Linked DNA regions of Homo sapiens: regions 1 and 3 are each linked to region 2. Evidence: fine-mapped expression QTL. A gene starts in region 2. Each other region holds a variant in brackets. All regions are shown on one strand. Distances are between the middles of the regions. Region 1 overlaps SNAPC4 (small nuclear RNA activating complex polypeptide 4). Region 2 holds the start of GPSM1 (G protein signaling modulator 1). Region 3 overlaps GPSM1 (G protein signaling modulator 1).

Evidence for each region.
Region 1: its variant is fine-mapped to the expression of GPSM1 in whole blood (TOPMed, PIP above 0.99).
Region 3: its variant is fine-mapped to the expression of GPSM1 in aorta (GTEx, PIP above 0.99).

Annotation. Positions count from the first base shown.
Region 1 is chr9:136,379,231-136,384,230 of GRCh38, reverse strand. SNAPC4 (small nuclear RNA activating complex polypeptide 4) reads left to right here. Exons shown (of 24, transcript NM_003086.4): 15 at 199-278; 16 at 563-1,045; 17 at 1,895-1,978; 18 at 2,158-2,407; 19 at 2,839-2,909; 20 at 3,381-3,491; 21 at 4,367-4,394; 22 at 4,932-5,000. Among named protein-coding and RNA genes, the nearest start is that of CARD9, 8.1 kb to the right of the region's middle. The variant G/A (reference allele first, on the strand shown) is at 2,276.
Region 2 is chr9:136,323,996-136,330,919 of GRCh38, reverse strand. It overlaps GPSM1 (G protein signaling modulator 1), which reads right to left and starts at 3,381. Exons shown (of 14, transcript NM_001145638.3): 1 at 3,157-3,381. The coding sequence starts at 3,224. DKFZP434A062 (a long non-coding RNA gene) reads left to right here and starts at 3,597. Exons shown (of 1, transcript NR_026964.3): 1 at 3,597-6,924. RefSeq lists enhancers at 2,161-2,689, 2,690-3,219, 5,749-6,377, 6,378-6,924 and a silencer at 4,253-4,547.
Region 3 is chr9:136,348,060-136,354,983 of GRCh38, reverse strand. It overlaps GPSM1 (G protein signaling modulator 1), which reads right to left. Exons shown (of 14, transcript NM_001145638.3): 10 at 6,217-6,287; 11 at 5,221-5,397. Among named protein-coding and RNA genes, the nearest start is that of DNLZ, 12 kb to the left of the region's middle. RefSeq lists an enhancer at 1,973-2,267. The variant A/G (reference allele first, on the strand shown) is at 3,787.

The sequences.
Region 1 (5,000 bases), 54 kb before region 2:
TTTCCTAAGGGGCTGAGCATCCAATGAGAATCAGATGCTGCCAAATTGTAGGCACCCAACATGCTTGACCCCCCAGCGTGAGAGTGCACAGGAGGCTCCACTCTGATGGGGCCACGGCGAGTCTCCTGGGGAACAGCAAGCCTGTCCTGGGGAAGAATCTTTGGATGAAGGCATTTCCATGGGGTTTGGCTTTTGCAGGTCACTGGGCAAAAATAGCTTCTGAGCTGCCCCATCGGTCTGGCTCCCAGTGTCTGAGCAAGTGGAAGATCATGATGGGGGTGAGCCACTCGCTCCTTCTTTATCTGAAACCAGACAATGGCCTGGTCAACTGGGGGGTCCAGCAGGCAGGAGGAGGGGAGGGGAGGGGGGCGTTCGGTTTCTGGTCTTGGCATTTCTTCTTCTGGGTGGCCAAGGGCAAAGGGAGACCCTGCCTCGGCAGCGGCTGCTCTTGACCCCGGAGGCGCCCCCGCTTGGGCCTCTCCCCAAAGGGCTGGCCTGCTTGCTGCCATCATGGGTGAACCGGGCTTGCCAAGGCCTCTAAGTAGCTCTTTCCTCCCCTCAGAAGAAGCAGGGTCTCCGGAGGCGGCGGCGGAGGGCCCGTCACAGCGTCCGGTGGAGCTCTACCAGCAGCAGCGGCAGCAGCAGTGGCAGCAGTGGAGGGAGCAGCAGCAGCAGCAGCAGCAGCAGCGAGGAGGACGAGCCAGAGCAGGCGCAGGCCGGGGAGGGTGACAGAGCGCTGCTGTCCCCACAGTACATGGTCCCGGACATGGACCTGTGGGTTCCTGCCAGGCAGAGCACCAGCCAGCCATGGAGAGGAGGGGCAGGGGCCTGGCTGGGAGGCCCCGCTGCCTCCCTCAGCCCTCCCAAGGGGTCCAGTGCCAGCCAGGGCGGCAGCAAGGAAGCTTCCACCACAGCCGCGGCTCCTGGAGAGGAGACGAGTCCGGTGCAGGTCCCTGCCAGGGCCCACGGCCCTGTCCCGAGGTCTGCCCAGGCCTCCCACTCAGCAGACACTCGCCCGGCGGGCGCAGAGAAGCAGGCCCTGGAGGTAGGCCCCGGCCCTGGGTGTACCACGGGAAGTGCACTTTCGGCACTCGCTCGCCAGGGCTGACGCTTGGGGATAGTGCAGCAGCAGGGGCCCCAGGGTTCGTGTGCATCAGAACGTGCTACTTCTGGCTGAGCTCTGGACAGCTGTGCGTCGGGGGGACTGTTGGGGAAGCCTCCATTTTTCCTGGCTTGTTGACTGTTTCAGGGGTATGGCTGAATGGGCACTTGGACCTGGAGGCATTTCTGAAACATTTCACCCCCAAGCCAGGGTTGGGGAGGGCAGAGGCAGCAGTGGGAGGAGCCCCTCCTCCCTCCTCGTGAGCCTGTGCACCTGGAGGCCCTCCCTGGGAAGGGCCTGTCCACCTGCTTGGGACAAGCCTGGCTTGTGGTGTGTCTGCTCGTCTTGGCTGGTCTTCACCGTGTCAGGCCCATCTCTGGCCATGTCTGTGGGAGCAGTCAGAGTTGAACAGGCTGGTCTGTCCTGGGAGTCATTGGCAGGGACAGTGGACACTGAAGCTACTGGCAGAGCTAGGTGCATGGGGCTCGCTGCTGCACAGCCAGCATCTCCCTAGGCCGGGGCGTCACCTGGAAGGGCTGCTGCTGTCAGCCTGAGGAACTGGCTGGGGGGCATGGGACCCTGTTAATGTCCCAGGAGCCAGGCCTAGCTGGGAGGCCCTGCCTGGGGAACCCACGCTTCCCATGGTGGACGTTCCCATGAGGCAGAGCAGAGCTGTACACAGCCACGCTTTGGAGCCTGGGTGAAGAGGCAGTCGTGTGTGGGCAGCGAGGGGAGGGCCCCCATGTGTCCCGTACACCCCGCGTGCCTCGCCTCAGGCAGCTTTCTCATCAGGGTGGGAGGCGTCTGCTGACAGTGCCTGTGGAGACCGTGCTGAGGGTGCTCAGGGCCAACACGGCTGCTCGGAGCTGCACACAGGTGAGGCCTGCTGCAGACACCCACGCGCACGCCACCACGTGCCCCGCCCTGGTCTGAGTGATTCCTCTCCCCGTCGATCATGCCCTGATGGGGGTGGAGGGCAGCACTGGCCACTGGGCAGGGTCCACTCCGGGGGCCGAGCCTGGCCATGGGCCCCAGGTGCTGCCTTCTCCTTACAGAAAGAGCAGCTGAGGCAGCCACCCCTGCCCACCTCATCCCCAGGGGTCAGCTCTGGTGACAGCGTGGCCCGATCCCATGTGCAGTGGCTACGGCACAGAGCCACCCAGAGTGGGCAGC[G/A]GCGCTGGAGACACGCTCTGCACCGGAGGCTCCTGAACCGCAGGCTGCTGCTGGCTGTGACCCCTTGGGTAGGGGACGTTGTCGTGCCCTGCACACAGGCTTCCCAGAGACCCGCCGTAGTGCAGACTCAAGGTATGGCCTGGGGCTCCTCTGGGAGCATCCTGGGGGCGAGGGGTGAGGATGAAGAGTACATCCAGCCTAGCAGACGGTGGCTACTTGGGGAAGTGGCCTCAGCAGGGGAGTCTTTTTGGGGTGGGCGCCACCTCTGGTCAGCTTCCCGTCCCTGAAGGTTTCCAGGACACCCAGTCACAGCCAGCCCTCCCTCCCTACCCCACCACTCTTCCTGGGCCAAGCATGTGGCAGCTTGGTGGTGACAGGGCTCACAGGGCCCACCCTTGTCCAGGCGTGGCTGTGGGGTGCTGGTTCCAAGGCCTCCCCTCCCACCCTGGCCTGGCTCCCAGAGCCGCCTCGAAAGGCACGTGGGAGCTGGGGCTGCTTTCCACCCATCCCCCTGTGCCCATGGGAGCTGGGGCTGCTTTCCACTTATCCCCCTGTGCCCGCAGCGGATGGCCTCAGGGAGCAGCTGCAGCAGGCCCGCCTGGCCAGCACCCCTGTGTTTACCCTGTTTACCCAGGTAAGCTACTTGGGCAGAGCTTCGTTTTCCTTTGCCTTGTAAAAAGTTTTTGGTGAAGTTTTGAAATCTGCAGTAGATTCATTCCTTAAAGTCTAGCTATCTAAAGTTTTCTAGCCTTGAAAATGCACTTTTCATGCCTTACACTGTTAGCAAGTGAATGTGGAAGGGGTGCCGGCTACAGTGTGCACTGCCCCCATCGGGCTAAACAGTGTCCGGGGAAGGGGGTCCCCGGGGCCCCAGTATGAGTGGAAGATGCCGGGGGAGGAGAGCAGGCCTGGGTCTCATGGGAGGCCATCCTGGATGTCCACAGCCTCATGGCCTCCCCTGCATCTGCATCAGAAGGGCAGGAAGGCTGAGGTCTCAAGGTAGCCGCCCCAGCCTCAGGGCTGCCCCAGGTTCTGCCTAGGCCTCTGGAGCTTCGGAGCTGCTCCCGAAAGCAGCTATGGTTAGGTTGCCTCCTGTGTCCCGCAGCTGTTCCACATCGATACTGCCGGCTGCTTGGAGGTCGTCCGAGAGAGGAAGGCCCTGCCACCCAGGCTGCCCCAGGCTGGTGCTCGGGACCCACCAGTTCATCTTCTGCAGGTAGCAGGCACTTGGGGTGAGAAGTGAGGATGGCCACTGCCCGCCCCGGCGTTGGAGTGGGTTTCCACGGAGGCTGGCTGCCCGCCCCACCCGCTCCACCGCAGCCCCTCAGGGAGGCATCTGCACTTCCCACCTGAGGGGACGCAGCCTTGAGAGGCCCTGGGGAAGTCAGGCAGGTGCAGGTCGGGGCTGACACTGGGGCCCACGTGCCTGTTTTCCCCCATAGCCCCGCTGGGCGGTCATGGACATGGGCGCTGTCTGCCGGGGATGCCTGGTTCTTGCCTTTCTGCTCCAGAAACCAAACTCACAGAAGTTCAGCGAGGCCTCCTCACCCTTGAGCCCCGTCACCTGGGGGTGGGGTGACAAAGCAGTGTCACTCATTGGAGGAGCAGGAACAGCAGTGGGGTACCCCTGGGCCTCTGTGCTTCCAGCCCCCCCGCCTCTCCCTGCAGACCCCACCCTGCCCCCAACCCCCCAGAAGAGCTCTTGAGGGCACCCTTAGGAGGAGCTGCACTGGCAGGGGGAACAAGGCCAGGCCTTTGCCTGCTGTGCAGGGCACGACAACGTCCCCTACCCAAGGGGTCACAGCCAGCAGCAGCCTGCGGTTCAGGAGCCTCCGGTGCAGAGCGTGTCTCCAGCACCGCTGCCCACTCTGGGTGGCTCTGTGCCGTAGCCACTGGACATGGGATCGGGCCACATGCTTGGCTCCTTCTGTGGCCCCGGAGTTCCTACAGAGGCGTGTGGGAGGCCAGCACCAGCCCTTGGGGCCTCGTCCCATTTCAGGGAGTGGCAGGGGATAGTCCAGATGCTAGGAGAGGTGGTCCAAGCCAGCAGAGGACACCTGAGCTGCTGACTCTCCTCTCTTTCATTTCCAGGCATCCTCAAGTGCCCAGAGCACCCCAGGTAACTCTGCTTCTCTGCCCTGGTGGGGAAGAGACCTAACCTGGCCCTGGCGGGGAAGAGGCCTAACCTGGCCCTGGCTTTCACCCACAGCCCCCAAGCAGCACAGCCTGTGGCCCCTGGTGACAGAGCTCCCTCGAGTCCCACCACAGGGATGAGAGTCCGGCTGGGCCAGCTTGGAGCTCCCTGGGCTCCCCTTGCAGCCCTAAGGCTTCCCCAGCATGGGGCCCAGAGGCAGGGGTCGTCTGGAGCGAGCGTCCGCCCATGCCCAACACCGGCAAGCTGGGCTGCCGGCTGATCTCAGCCAGCATTAAATGGGCTGGGTTTCCCAGAGTGCCCACTGCCCTGGCTTTGGCCGGAGCATTGCCATCTGGGGTAGCCACTGTGACTTGGGAGACCCAGGATGTGCCGCTTGACCCTCTCTTGGCTCAAGACCCCAGGCTCCCCACATGGTCCCTCCTGATGAGGGGATGGCAGCGAGGGGCTGTCCCTGGGCCAGATGCCTGGGGCTTATCAAGTGTGGGTCTTTCCTCCCCACAGGCCACCTCTTCCCAAACGTGCCGGCTCAAGAAGCCTCAAAGAGTGCCAGCCACAAAGGGAGCCGAAGAC
Region 2 (6,924 bases):
CCTTCAGGACAGCTTGGCCAAAGGCGGGGCAGGACCTAGAATGCCTCTCCCTTGCCCAGTCCTCGTCAACAGACTGAACCCTCAGACCCTCCGTGGTGGCTGGGGTGCCATCACCAAGGCCAGTTCCCAAGCCAGCACTGCAACTCCTACTACCTCCGGCCACCCGAAAGCCGTGTCCCTCAGTCCCAGCCCTGCTAACAGAATTGGCACCTGCCCCTCCCCAAGGCCGTCACCTACATGCTGGCCCCTGAGCAGATGCTGAAGAGACTCTGCTCACAGCTGGCTCTATCTGCCCCATCCCCCAGCCAGACACCCCCAGGGAAAACCACACCGACTCCCCTTCAGTGGCCAGGGGAGGGGAGAGAGTGAGGCGCAGGACCGGGCTGGGAGCACAGCGGGAGCTGGAATCACTGGAGAGGGGACTGAAGGTCACCCAGCTGTAGGAAGCACCTGGGGTCAGGCTTGCCAGGAATTCCTAGGGCCCGTCGCTGCCCAGCGACCCACCAGGGATGGTGCCCAGGACGGGGACAGGGGAGGGAGGAAGGATGGAGTGAAGGTAGGGGGTAGCATGGCCATGTGGCCAGAGAGGTTGCGGGGGGCCCAGTCCACACCTGAGGACGTCCTGTCTGGGAGCTGGTGACTGCTGCTTGGAGGGCATCTCTAACAGGGTCACCCCAAGGTGGGTGGCTCTGCTGCCCCTTCCCGGCCCCAGCCCCGGGGAGCACTCAGCTGGCCTTAAAGCAGGTGGGAGGCCAGGAGACGACCACCCAGGGTTTCCCCACTTTCCGGGGCCTTCTCAGCCACTGGCCTGTCCCCGCCAGGCCTCTTCACCCCAAAGCCCTGCTCTGGGCCAGGGAGCCCCTGGCAAGTGGGCCAGAATTCTGAGCATTAACTGTAGCACCCAGGGCCCTGTCCCCACCGACCCAGCACCCAGGGCCCATCCCCACTGACCCAGAACCCAAGGGCCCGTCCCCACCGACCCAGCACCCAGGGGCCCGTCCCCACCGACCCAGCACCCAGGGCCCCGTCCCCACCGACCCAGCACCCAGGGGCCCGTCCCCACCGACCCAGCACCCAGGGCCCCGTCCCCACCGACCCAGAACCCAGGGGCCCGTCCCCACCGACCCAGCACCCAGGGCCCCTCAGGGTACCCAGTGGGCTCATGGGCACATTCATGGGCCTCGCTGTCAGTGTGTTTTCCAGGCACAGTTCCCCATTTTAAAAGCTGAAACTCCTCTCTCCAGGAAGGAATGTCAGTGTGGGAAGGCAGTAGACGGGGCAGAGGAGACCTTGGGCCAACCTGGAGCCCCATCCACATTGAGGGACCCCAGTACAGCCACGTGAGGAGTGCCCACACGGATTCCGCCCACCTCCAGGGCATCCACATGCCCACCGCCCACGCCAGCAGGTGGGCCGCCCCCAGCACTCGGGTTTCAGGAGACAGGAGACTTTTCCGTGTCTTGCTCTCCAGCCCCAGCATGACAGCAAAGGGCCCTCCCGTCTGGCCCGCAGCTTCCACTGGCCCAGAACACGTCTAGGCATCCATGCTCTGAAGCCAGCTCCGACCAGGAACCGCCTGCCCAAACCGGGCTGTGGCTACACGGTGGGGTGCAGACTCCCGGGGGGACCTCGTCACAGGCCCTGCTGGAGGGCTTGGCGCGCTTCCCCCAAGTCTGGGCCTGACTCCACCCTGGAGCTCAACTGGACTCCCTGCTTAGGGGGATGCAAGGCTGGGTCTGGGGTCTCTCTGAGTGGTCCCCCTGAGCACTGCCCCTGCCAGGGGCTGGCTCCTGCCTGGCGTGTCCCCAGGGGACCCCAGGCTTCTAGCTGTAGCCTGGAGAATGCCCAACTCTATGGTCAGCTGTGCAGGCCTCACCCAAGGCTAAGGTCTTGGACACCCGTCTCTCACAGCTCCACACACACACTCTCTCACAGCTCCACACACTCACACTCAAACTCACTCCAGCCAGGGCTGCTATCCATCCCCCTCACAGCACGGCCGCCCTGGAGCACATGCGGCCCTGCACAGCCGATCAGATCAGCGGAGGAAACCCTTGAAAATCCTTTAGGGCAGGCCCCTGGCAGCAGCTGCCAGCAAAATCACCCTCACGCCCCTCCCCTGCGTGGGGCCCAGGAGCCAGGCTAGGGGCTCAGCGCTCCATCCAGGACGGCACAATGGGGCTGTGTCTGGGACCAAAGCAGAGAGCAGACCGGAGGCAGCAAGGCCTCTGTCCGCCGTGCCGCCACCAGTACCTCATTTCGGGTGCCCCAGGCAGAGGCTTGCTGCTTGGCTGGGGCCAGAGAATCCTTGGGGGCCAGGCTAGGCGCCCCCCGGGATCAGCTGCTGGGACCCCTATCAGGGAGGTCACCAGGTTTTAGGGATGTCCAGAGGACAATAGTGTCCCTCGCTCTGGGGAGCCAGGCCTGCCTCTGACGGCTGCCACCCATTCGCAAGCCCCTGCCTGGACCTCACGCTCGTGTGGCTCTGCCTGAGGCCTGGTACCACCCAGCCTTGCTTGGGGCTCCAGGCACCTGCCCGGCTGGGCCCAGGGCAGCCCCTGGGGGGACATTGGGAGTCACCAGGCAGGCATGCCACCTGGGGCAGGGCCACCCTGTCATCCCCAAAGGCGTGGGGCACAGAGCCCAGTCACTGGGATCACCCAGGAATGTGCCCGGAGAGTAGATGCCTTTTCAGGCAGGTACACACCCACCTGGCTGGCTCCCTTCCAACCCAGCTGGATCCCACTGGGCTCGTGGAGGGCTGGTGAGGGGCAGAGCCCCATCCAGAGCAGCCAGGTCTCTTTGGCCATGATGCCCCTGAGTGCCCCGGGCATGGCAGGGCCAGGCTTGGGAGGGAAGCACCCCACGGTGCCCCTGCCAGGTGCCAGGGGAGTGAGGCTGGAGAAGCTGCCCACCCCGCCTCCAGCCCCCCGGCCCCCCACCCCCTTCCCCTTGGCTTGGGGGAAAGAGGGCTTCAGGGGACGCCCACGCGGGCACACGCCGGGCTGGGCTCGGCCTGGAGGGAGGGGCGCGTCCTCAGCCACGCTGCGCGCCCGCGAGAGCTGCCTTTGTTCCCAACTGCAGCCTCCCCCGCGTCCCGACCCGGCCCGGTCCGGTCCCAGCCCCGGCCCCGGCCCCGGCCCCGGCCCGTCCTACCTGGAGTAGAGGCGCCTGGCGGCCGGGCCCGGGAGCTCGTCGGCCGCGGGCGGGGCCGGGCCCGCCATGGGTCGGGGACGCGGGAGCGGGAGCCGGGAGCGCCCCCCGCGCCGTGGCCGTCCGCCCCCTGCCCGCCCTGCTGTCCTCCCTGCTGTCCGCCCTGCTGTCCGCCTGTCCGTCCGCGCCTCGTTCGCCCGTCCTCCCCCGGGGAGGCGCCGAGGAAGTGATGTGCGCGGGGCGCCGCCGCCCCTCCCGCCGCCGTGGCCGTGATGTCACCGCCGCCCGCGCGGGGAGGGGGCGCGGACCGGGCGGCCACCGCCGCGTGCCTCCCTCTGCGGGGGGCGGGGCGGACGCGGGGGGAGGGGCGCCGTGAGGCGGGCAGTCCCCGGGGAGGGGGGAGGGGGGAGGGGGTGTGGGCCCCAGCCCACCCCACCCCAGGGAATGCAGGGGAGAGGGCCTGGGCCTGGCCTTGCTGCTGGTCCCCTGGGGACTTCTGAGGGCCCGCGGGGGTCCCTGGGTCACAGTGCAGCCACACTGGCCTCTGGGCTCCTTTCATCCACAGGCCGCCTGGTGAGCCCCGCAGCCTCACCCACGTGGGGAGGGGCTGCTGAGGCCTCCTTGCCTTTCTTGGTGGGCGCCCTACGCCTCGGGGGTCCTACCCTCCTCTTCTGTGCAGCCCCAACGTGGCTTTGCCCCCTTCTCCAAACTTCTGCCTTGGGCCATGGGGCGCAGGCCGTGGGGATGCTGTCTGCCTGCTTTAGAGAAACCTGGGGCACCGATGACAAATACAGGCTCTGCTTGGCCTGTGGGACGGTTGGTAAGCCCCCCACCTCTGAGACCCTGGGTGGCCACATTCCCCTCCCAAGCTCCCCCGGAATGGGGATGCAGCCTGCCCCTTCCTTCCTCCTGGGCACTGTGCAGGCTTAGGGAGGATGCAGGTGGCACAGTAGGCTGTGCCCACCCGGGGTCCCGGGACCCCAGCCCCTACCGCCTCCTCCTCCTCCTCTGAATTCTTGGAGCCCTGTGGGCCTATGTGGTGTGACGTGGCTTCCCCTCCACCCACCCTCAGCTCCCGATGGCTTGGGGGGTTCTCCGCAGCCAGCGAGGCCCACAGCCGGCCTCCCCGGGTTCTGTCCTGCCCCCGACAGCATCCTGGGCCTTCCGGTGGTGTCAGGAGACTCCAGGCCCTTGAAAGGCAGCTGCGACCCCGGGTATGACTCGGAGAAGTCCAGGAGCAGGAAATGGGCTGCATTCCTTCGGGGCCCCTCCGTGCACCCCAGCCCCTCCCTGGGAGAGCTGCCCTGAGGTCAGGAAAGTGCCGTCCTGGCAAGACCCTCAGCAGCTGCCGCCCACAGGACAGTCAGCGTTTTCAAGCATGGGAAGGAAAATAAACACGAGGTTAAAAAGGGGTCTGTTGGCCCCGGGCTGGTTTGTTTTTCCTGTGTAAGGGAGGCAACGGGAATGAGAACCATCTGTGCCCTGAGCGCAGCGCAAGCTGCCTGCTGGGCCCACGTGCCCTCCCCCAAAGACCACAGAAGCCAGGCAGAGCCTTGCTCCCTTCCAGCCGGGGCCGTGGCTGCTGGCCGGCAGGGACAGTGGTGTTGGCTGGGGCACCACCCTCCTTTGCCACAGCCCTGGGCCTGGCTGCGGGCAGAGAACAGGCCTTCGATTGAAGCTCCAACCTTCCGGGCCACCTCCTTTGGGCTTCGGGCACCTGAGCCAGCATCCCATTGTAAGGGCAGGGGCTGCTGGGGGCCCTGCCTGTGCCAGGCCTCAGCTCAGCCCTCTTTCCCCAGGCGCTGCTGCCATCAGGAGGCCCACAGAGGGTCCACACCAACACTGTGAGCCCCTTGTGGGTCCCCTGGGTTAGTGGTGGGAGGCTGGTGAAGAGAAGTGGGGACAAAAGACATTGCACAAATGGTGGAGGGAGGGAGAGATTTGCAGCCTCGTAGCTGTCATTGCTGGGGGAGCTTCTCCTGGTCTCCTTCCTTGATGCAGAGAGCTGGGAGCTTGTGTCCCTGGGCCGGGAGAGCCCCAACATTATATCAGAACTTGTGGGGAAACCTGCACCCCCGAGGGCTCTGGCTTTGTTAGGCCGAGCTGGGCTATGAGGCTGTGTGACCTGGCACAAGTTGCTTTCCCTCTCTGAGCCTCGGTTCTGTCACCTGAGGGCTGCCCGTCCCGCAAGGTGTGGAGGGTCACTGAGGCGTGGGGTTTCTGCGGTGCTTGTCCATGTGCCTGGCACACAGTGGGGTTTGTGCAGTGCTTGTCCATGTGCCTAGTGGCTCACAGTGGGGTTTGTGCGGTGCTTGTCCGTGTGCCTGGCACACGGTGGGGTTTGTGTGGTGCGTGTCCATGTGCCTGGCACACAGCGAGAGCTGCTGGGGTCATGTTGCTCTCACACTCGTGCCTGCCCCTGCTGGGCCCCTGCAGTGGGTCCTGGCTGGATTGGGGGTACATCCCCACCACACTGCACAGAGGGGCGTCTCCTCCTATCCAGGGACCTGATTCTCCTGTCGAGAAAACCTATGAAGGGGACCCAGAGATGGAGTGTGACAAGGCCAGGTGACAGGCCTGACATGTGGTGTCCACATCCAGAAGGGAGACCCTGGAGGGATGACCCTCCACTGCCACCCCCTCCCATCAGGCTCTGGACACCCTCGAGCCTCCCACCATCCACCTTACCAGATCCCCCCAAGAGTCCGGGAAGCTCACTCCCCCAGGGGACCAGGAGCACAGCCCCTTCCATTCCTAACGGGCCTGACTCCCAAAGGGGGGTGAGGAAAGAAAAAGCCATTTCACATCGACTTATTCTTCTGGCCCCAGGCAGCAGCACAGGGCGCAGGGTGGGCCTCTGCAGACACGATGGCTCCGTGGTCAGGGAGGGGCCACCTCCCATGTGCCTGGGGAGGGGCCCTCCCAAGCCCCTGCGTGGCAGCGCCAAGGGGTTGGAGTCAGCCCCAGCACACACAGGGCCCTGCTCACTGGTGGCCATTGTCAGCGCCACCTCCACCTTCAGGAGCCTGCCACGTGCCTGCCCTCGGTCACTTAGCCCTCCCTGGCACGCACCACTTTGTCCACACACCCTGTGTGTAAGTGGTGACAGCGGTGACAGCTCAGGCGTCACCTGATCGGGCCGACTCTAAGCCTTAGTCCTTCCTTGTCCTGTTGCGCCGGACAAGCCTCTGGGAGGCGACGGTGGGACAGCCACAGGGTTCTTGGCTCAGCCCCCAGGAGTGGGGAGCTGGGGCTCTGGACGGAGGTGGGCACTCGAGGCTGGTGTGGCCTCCTGGGTGAGGGCCAGGCTCGGGAGAGGCAGCCAGGCGGCCCCAAGCCACCCCAGGAACAAAGCACCAGCACACACCTCCACTGGTTTGCTAGGGCTGGGAGAAGTTGGAGTGTTTCTGTGGTGGCTGTGGCAGCCCACGGCCCCAAGACCCTGGCTTCCTTCTGCTCCCACCTTTTCAGGCCCCTTCCCCAACAAGCAGCTACTGTAGGACCCAGTGGGGGCTAGGGCACCAGCAGCTGCCATTACCCATGCTGGGTCCTGATGGTTCCTGACCAGCCTCAACCGTGGATTCCAAGCTGGGGAAGGAAGAAGCAGGCCGGGAGTGGGGAGGGAGACAGTGAAGGACACCCAAACACACACACACACACACACACACACACACACACACACACACACACAGAAGGAACAGTTTCAGCTTTGTTTCCCAGTAATCTCACTTAAAAAGAACACTTGGGTTTACCATGTTCACATAATCTCGT
Region 3 (6,924 bases), 24 kb before region 2:
ATGGGTGCTACCCCAGTCCAGGCCTCTGTCCGTCACCTGCCCTGGGCCAGCCTCCCCAGCCTTGGCCTGGAACACTTCCCAGACATCCCGGGAAGCCTCCCGTGCCTCCTGTCCCTGTGCCCACCACACCCTGTGTCAGCCCTGCCATGAGCTCCCTGTGTCCATGCCCTACACAGCCCTCACCGGTGTCTGCTGTGTGAATGAACTCGAAGGAATGAACCCCGCCCTGGGCCTCAGTCCACACACCCAAACAAGGGAGGCTGGAGGGCGTGGTCTCCTGTGGCCCCCCAAGGGGCCCAGCTGAAGCAGGTCCACCCCGTGACCCAGCCTCACAGGGCCTGGTCCGGGCCCCAGGGCTGAAGGGTGTTTGTGATGGTTCCAAGCCCCGTCCACCTCCCGACCGGCGCTGGCAGCCCCTGCCCGGCCCCAGCCTGTCCATCTCACGGCTGGTGGCCTCTTCCAGGTCTGCAAATGCTGGGCTCACAGCTGAACGAGTTAACAAGAGACGCAATGTTGGTGGAGATGGCACCTCCCGGGTCCCCGATGCTGCCTGGAATTCCCAATACCTGACCCCCACAGCCCAGGAGACGGACAGCTGTCTGACAGACAACTGGAATTCCCGACACCTGACCCCCACAGCCCAGGACTAGGGCTCCCGTCCTGCTTCCAGTTTTCTGCTGGACTCGGCCCAGGGCACAGGAGAGTGGGGCCTAGAGACATGTGTGACCTACCCAAGGTCATGCTGGAGCAAAAAAGAGCTGGGATTCAGACCCTTGAGCTGAGCCGAGGGCCCTGTGGACAGCCCTGTTTTAGGAGAGACCCCACCTGGCTCTGGCCCCTGGAGTCAGTCCCCAGCTGTCACGGAAGCCTGAGGTACCTCCTGTCCCTGAGGCAGACCTGAGGAGGGAGAGTTCTAGCACCCCCTTCTCCCCGCAGGGCTCTCCTCCTGCAGCCTGGCTCAGGCCTAAGGCAACACCCCCACTCCCCCGGATTCCCCAGCCAGGAGGGAGGGGAGAATTGGCCCAGTCTGTGGGGAGGGCCACATCCACTTGGGCCAGGGCTCTGGGAGCTGCAGGTCCAGGCAGAGGGTGGCACTGGGGTTGCCAGCCTGAGTGCCAGTTGGGGCCACACAGGTACCTCCCCAGGAGGATGTGGCCTCCTGGTCTAAAAGGAACTGGCTCCTGGGCTATGATGACCTAGGGCACAGCCGCGGGGGGCCTCTGCCTCTGGCCCAATCTGGACTCCCCCAGGTGACCCGGGGCCCAGGTGGACTGAGCAAGGTCCCTCCTGGGAAAGGCAGGACCCGTCAGGGGCCATGTCCCAGGCCCCATGGCAGAGCCCCTCTCAGGGTCCTATGTCGGGCAGCCCTCCCCTTCCCTGAGGCTGGGGCCAGCTGTTGAGGGGCTGATGCCTCCCTCACATGGGGGCAGGGGCCCACGACTGCAGGTGCAAAACCGTGGCTCAGTGCCTGGTACGGGGAAAGGCTCTGGATAGTTTGGGGCTCCTGGAGCCCCTCAGAAGCAGGACCCTGGGCCCCAAGGCCACCTTCCCCTGCATTTATGTCCCAGTAGAACATATCCAGTGGGACTCGGGGTTCCGCCTCCCTGCTCTAACCTCTCCCTTGCCCCAAGCCCTGGCTCCCTCCTTCCCGGAGGCCTCAGAGTCCCTCCTGCAGTCTGACTCTAGTCTCTCTTGCTTTGGCACAAGCCCAGTTTCTCCTGCGGAGGAGGGGAATGCACCCGGCCCAAGACCACCCCACCCGGCTTCACAGAGGCCCGTGTGCTCCCTCAGCCTCCACCTGTTAGGACCCCAGGGACCCCAGACTCACGCGGATCACAGGCTGTCTCCACAGCAGCAGGGAGCCACGCTGGGTGCTTGGCCACACAGAGCGCAGGCAGGACACAAGGTGCCCAGGGCCACCACCGCCCTGCCCAAAGTGCCAAGTGCTGCCTCAATGCTGGGATGCCTGAGGCTTAAATAGGACCCTGGGCAAGGGCTCGGCCCTCCTAGCGCCCGCCCCTGCTCACTTGAGTGCGTGCACACACACAGGCTCACACACACGCACGTGGGCTCGCACTCACACACAGGCGCACTCCGTAAACACTCCCCCAGCAAGTGCAGCAGTGAACCTCCCCCTCCCCGTGCCTGTGGGCGGGCACACTGGAGGGCTGTGTGGGCAGACAGCCTGCCGAAGAGCCCTTTTCCCGCTGACACCTGGGCCCCTGGGCCTCCCTCCAGAGCTGGGCCAGGTGGGGAAAGCCACCTCTTTATTCAGCCTGACTACGGAGGCAGGCGCAGAGGACCTGGGCGGGTTGCTGTCCTCATCTGGACTCCTCTGTCCGGGACGGCCCTTCCTGTCCCACAGCCCTCGGTGGCTCCCCAGTGCCCTGGCTCAAGGGCCTCCCGGCCAGCTCAACTCAAGCCTCTGGTTGCTGCCTCTCTGTCTCATTCCTGGTTGGACCTACACTGTCTCCAGCCTCTGAGGCCAACCCTGCCCTGTCCCCTACCCTCCACCCCAGAATGAGTTCTCTGGACCCCCAGACCACACCCAGCCACACCGCCTCAGATCCCAAAGCCCCGAATGTGCTGGCTGCAAGGCCCCTGCACTGTCTGGGCACAGGGTGGGGAGGGGCAGGGGCTGGTTGGTCACCAACAGCAACGGCGCAGCATCGGTGTCACCAACAGCAACGGCGCAGCATCGGTGTCACCAACAGCAACGGCGCAGCATCGGTGTCACCAACAGCAACGGCGCAGCATCGGTGTCACCAACAGCAACGGCGCAGCATCGGTGTCACCAACAGCAACGGCGCAGCATTGGTGTCACCAACAGCAACGGCGCAGCATTGGTGTCACCAACAGCAACGGCGCAGCATTGGTGTCACCAACAGCAACGGCGCAGTATTGGTGTCACCAACAGCAACGGCGCAGTATTGGTATCAGCTGCACTTTGCAGATGAGGACCCCAACTGAGAGCTGAAAGCCCTTCCCTGAGGACCCCAGCAGAGGGGGAAGGGGGCCCACCCGGCCACTGACGCCCCAGGGATGTATCCCCCACCCACCCTCGCTGCAGTCCCCATACAGGCTGCCACCAGGGTGCAGACGGTCCTTACTCGGAGGTACCCAAGGTTCTGACCTCGGTAAGGCCAGTGGGGTTCAGGTCAGCAGAAAGCCAAGAGGCCCTGCCACGTCCTCACAGACCCTGGGAACCCCGTTTGTCTGGGGCCAGGATCTTGGCTGTCCCAGGCGTCCTGCCCCGCGGTGGTTGCAGGGGCCAGGGGAGCAGGGCCCGCAGCAGGTGGGGGCTCCCTGGGGCCCTGGCCAAGGCCTCCAGAGTGCTGGGCCAGGCAGCTGGACACTTGGAACTGTGTCCCCTTGCCCTGCTGGCCCAGACCCAGGGCAGTTTGTTGGGGTGACGTGAAGCCTGGAAGCCCTCAGAGGCTGTGCTTTCTAGAAAGCCATCAGCCCCTGAGGCCGGCTGACTGGTCTGTCCCACACATGCTGCCAGCCTCCCACTCCTTCCTTGGCGGCCCAGATGTGATGGGCAGAGCCAGCTGTGGACAGGGCAGACCCAGCTGTGGACAGGGCAGGGCCAGCTGTGGACAGGGCAGGTGTCTGGGTCCCAGTCCTGCTCCTCCCTCCAGGCCCAGGGAGGCTGGGGGATCACCGGGACCCCCGGGAAGGCCTGACCAGGTGCTCCCTGGGTGCCCTTCCCTCCACACCTCTCCCATCAGTGGACGGATGGACCTAGCCCAGATGGTTGGGCAGTGCTGGGGCTGAATGAGGGGA[A/G]GGTAGGCTGTGCCCTGCTGGTGGGAAGGATGGGCTTGGGCAGCCTCGGGGGGCTGCGAATCCCAGCCCAGCACCCACACCCCTCTGCAGGTTGGTGCCCACGGAAGAACAATTTCAGACTATTTCTAGTGGTTTGGACCCAGCCGTCCTGCTCGGGGGAGCTCCAGGCTGACCTCCGAACCCGGACTCGGCCCATCGGTGCCCCTGAACACCAACCAGCTCTCCCGTGGCTGGGGTGGCCCTGGCACAGCTGACACCTGCCAGGCACAGGCCCGGCCTGTCACCTGTCCCCCCACCAACCCCGAGTCTGACCACCAGTCTGTCTGTCCCCCGTCCGTCCACCCATACACTTGGCAGTCACTGCAACTGCCCCACCCCTCCCGCCACCTCTGTGTGCCACAGCAACGCGGGGGGCTCCTGGCTAGCCCTGAGGACCCGGGTGGCGCCCAGGCTGCGCTGCTGCTGCTTGCTGGGCTGTGACCCTCTGCTCCACTCGTGACCTTGAGCCCAGGTGGGGTAGGGCAGGGTGGGGCCTCCCAGCCCCTGACCAGGAGGAACCCTGAGTGGACCTAGCCCCTTGCTGTCCCCTCACCAGGGGCTCTGCAGCCATGCACAGGCCACCCAGCTGCATCCCCTCCATGACCCCACTCACCATCGGTCCTGCCCCGGCCCCTGCACCCACAAGGAGAGGCCCCAGTACCTTGGCCCAGCTGGAGCTGCAGGTGCTTCCACACCAGGGCCTGACCATGGGTGTGGCTTAGGGGCTTCCCACCCACCCCTTGGGTGCCCCTCAGGCCCCTCTGCTCAGGGACCCCCGCCAGGTGTCAGAGATCCCAGGATTCCCCCAGGGACTGTGTTGGCCTCGTCCACCCCTCCAGGGCCCTGGTAGGATACACAGGCTTGACCTCACTGGCCAGAGCCTCCAAGAGCCACCTCAGGAAGGGGCACCCCATCAGGGGATCTGTGCAGCCCGGCTCTCACAGTGAAGGCAGCCAGTTCCTTTCAGGGACACGCTCCTGTGACTAGCGGATGGGTCTGGAGGGTCCCAACAAAGGAGGGTGGGGGCTGGAGTCAGAGAGAGAGGCCACCTGAAGGCTGGGAAGAGCCAGCCCCCAACTGGTGAACAAGATGGAAACTGAGGCCCAAAGAGAGGCGGGGCGTTCCATGCAGAAGAGCCCAGCCTAGAGTCCCCAGGAGGCTCCTCGGTGGCCGGGGCCTCTGAGGCCAGGTGCGACCACAATGCTAAACACTGAGCCCTGCCCAGAGCCCCCACCGGGGTCCCAGGACAGCACTGCACCAGGTGCACCGGGGAGGGACCCCTGCCTCCCCGGAGTGCCCGGGCCTGACCTGGCCCCGTTGGCTGGCAGTGGAGTTGGGGCGCAGTTGCCAAGCTCTCCTCCCTCTCGGCCTGGATCTGCCGTCAAAGACGCCTACCGTGCGTGGCACGTGCACCCGGACGTCGGCGCTGTCCAGCGGGGAGTGGCTGCCCTCCCGGGGCCTCCTCTCAGCGTCCGGGCCTTCCTGGTACTTCCTGCTCCTCACGGGGAGGGGTAGCGAGTCCCTGCTGGGCCCCCGCCAGTCCCCTGAATGGTGGCTGTCTCCATTCTGCTCCTGGGGAGGGGTAAGGCTGTGCGTGGCCTGGGCAATTGTGAACCAATGTCCCCATCCCAGGACCCTGAAGGGAAGGCCAGGCCGCCTCCATTTCATGGATGCACGCCGTAGGTGCCCAGTACCCAGAGAGGAGGAGAGGACTGGGGCTGTGGGCCCTTGGCTGGGGCCGGGAGAGGCAGGGTGGGGTGTTTGAGGGCCAGTGGCCCCCGCAAATGTCAGCCGGCTTATACCAGCAATGACAGTGACTGTGGGCGTCCTTGGGTCTCGTCCCCACAGCAGAACCCTGACGGCCATCCACAACTGAACACAGGCCACACCAGAGGAACCAGAGGCTCAGAGAGATCAGGCTGCTGGCCCAGGCCACACAGCACCCACTGCCGACAGGCACAGGGCCAGCCCAGGGCCCTACGCCAGGCAGCCCCCGAATCTGTCTGTGTGGGTCTGCTGAACCCCAGCCAGTGTCTGCACCTGCAGCAGCTGTGCCCACTTTGGGTCAGAGTCCGAGAGGGCAGGGAGCAGGCAGGAGTGGGTGCCCCTGTCTGTGGGCTCCCGAGGGTGTGGTGGCATAGCAGCTGGGTGGAGTATGGGGGCCTGAAATGTGTGAGGACCATGCCTCGCCTGGGGCACAGCTGGCCAGACGCTGAGGGACATGGGTGAGCAGGTGGCAGATGGGCCATGCAGGGCATCAGGCCGAGGAGGGCACATTTATCTCCCAGCAGACAGGGGCTGAGGTGGGTGGCGGTGGCTCTGCCTCATTAACCCCGCTGCCCATGCTCTGGCAGCGGCTGTGCTGACATCGGTCCCGTGTCCCTGGCTCACCCGCTCCAGGGGGAGTCTCAGCAGGTCCCAGGTCTCCGCGCTCAGCCTCTGCGTCCTCTTGGGTCTGGCCCCTGAAGACAGAGGGACCCGGTCAGCCCAGCACCACCCTGGCACCTCGCATTGGGTGGGCCAGGCCAGAGTCTCTGGGGGGCCAAGGACCAGCCCGGCCATGGCTTTCTGACAGCCAGCCCCCCTTGTGGAGGCGAGCGCCATGTCTGAGTGTCCTCTGCGTCTCCCCGACTGTACTGTCAGAGTCAAAGGGGACAGGTGTCGAGACAGAGCGCGTCCTGGCTGGGGCCAGGTGGGGTCTGGCTTTGGCTCCCTGTGCTGGAAGGGCCCGGCTCTGGACAGGCCTCTCCCCTGCCGCACACAGGGCCTCCCCCGTCAGTCCTGCTGTTCCCTCTGCCTGGATCACCCTTCCTGTGGCCCCTGGTCACCTCTGTGAGGCCACCCAATCCCCCCTCCTGAGGGTGCATCATGCTGTGCCCCGGAGGCAGGTGGGGCGGGCCTGTGGGTCCACTCCCAGCTCACTGCGGGCAGCCCAGGCCAGGGTCGGGGACGCAAAGGCCTCAGATGAATCCCCCAGACCAGCTCTGCCGTGGGACCTTCCCCGGGCTCCTGTCCATCCCTCCTGGCCCGGGGCTCACCCTACTGGCCGTGTCTCCACCCAAGGGACCCCCATCCCCTCTAGCCGCAGTGGGGTGGTGG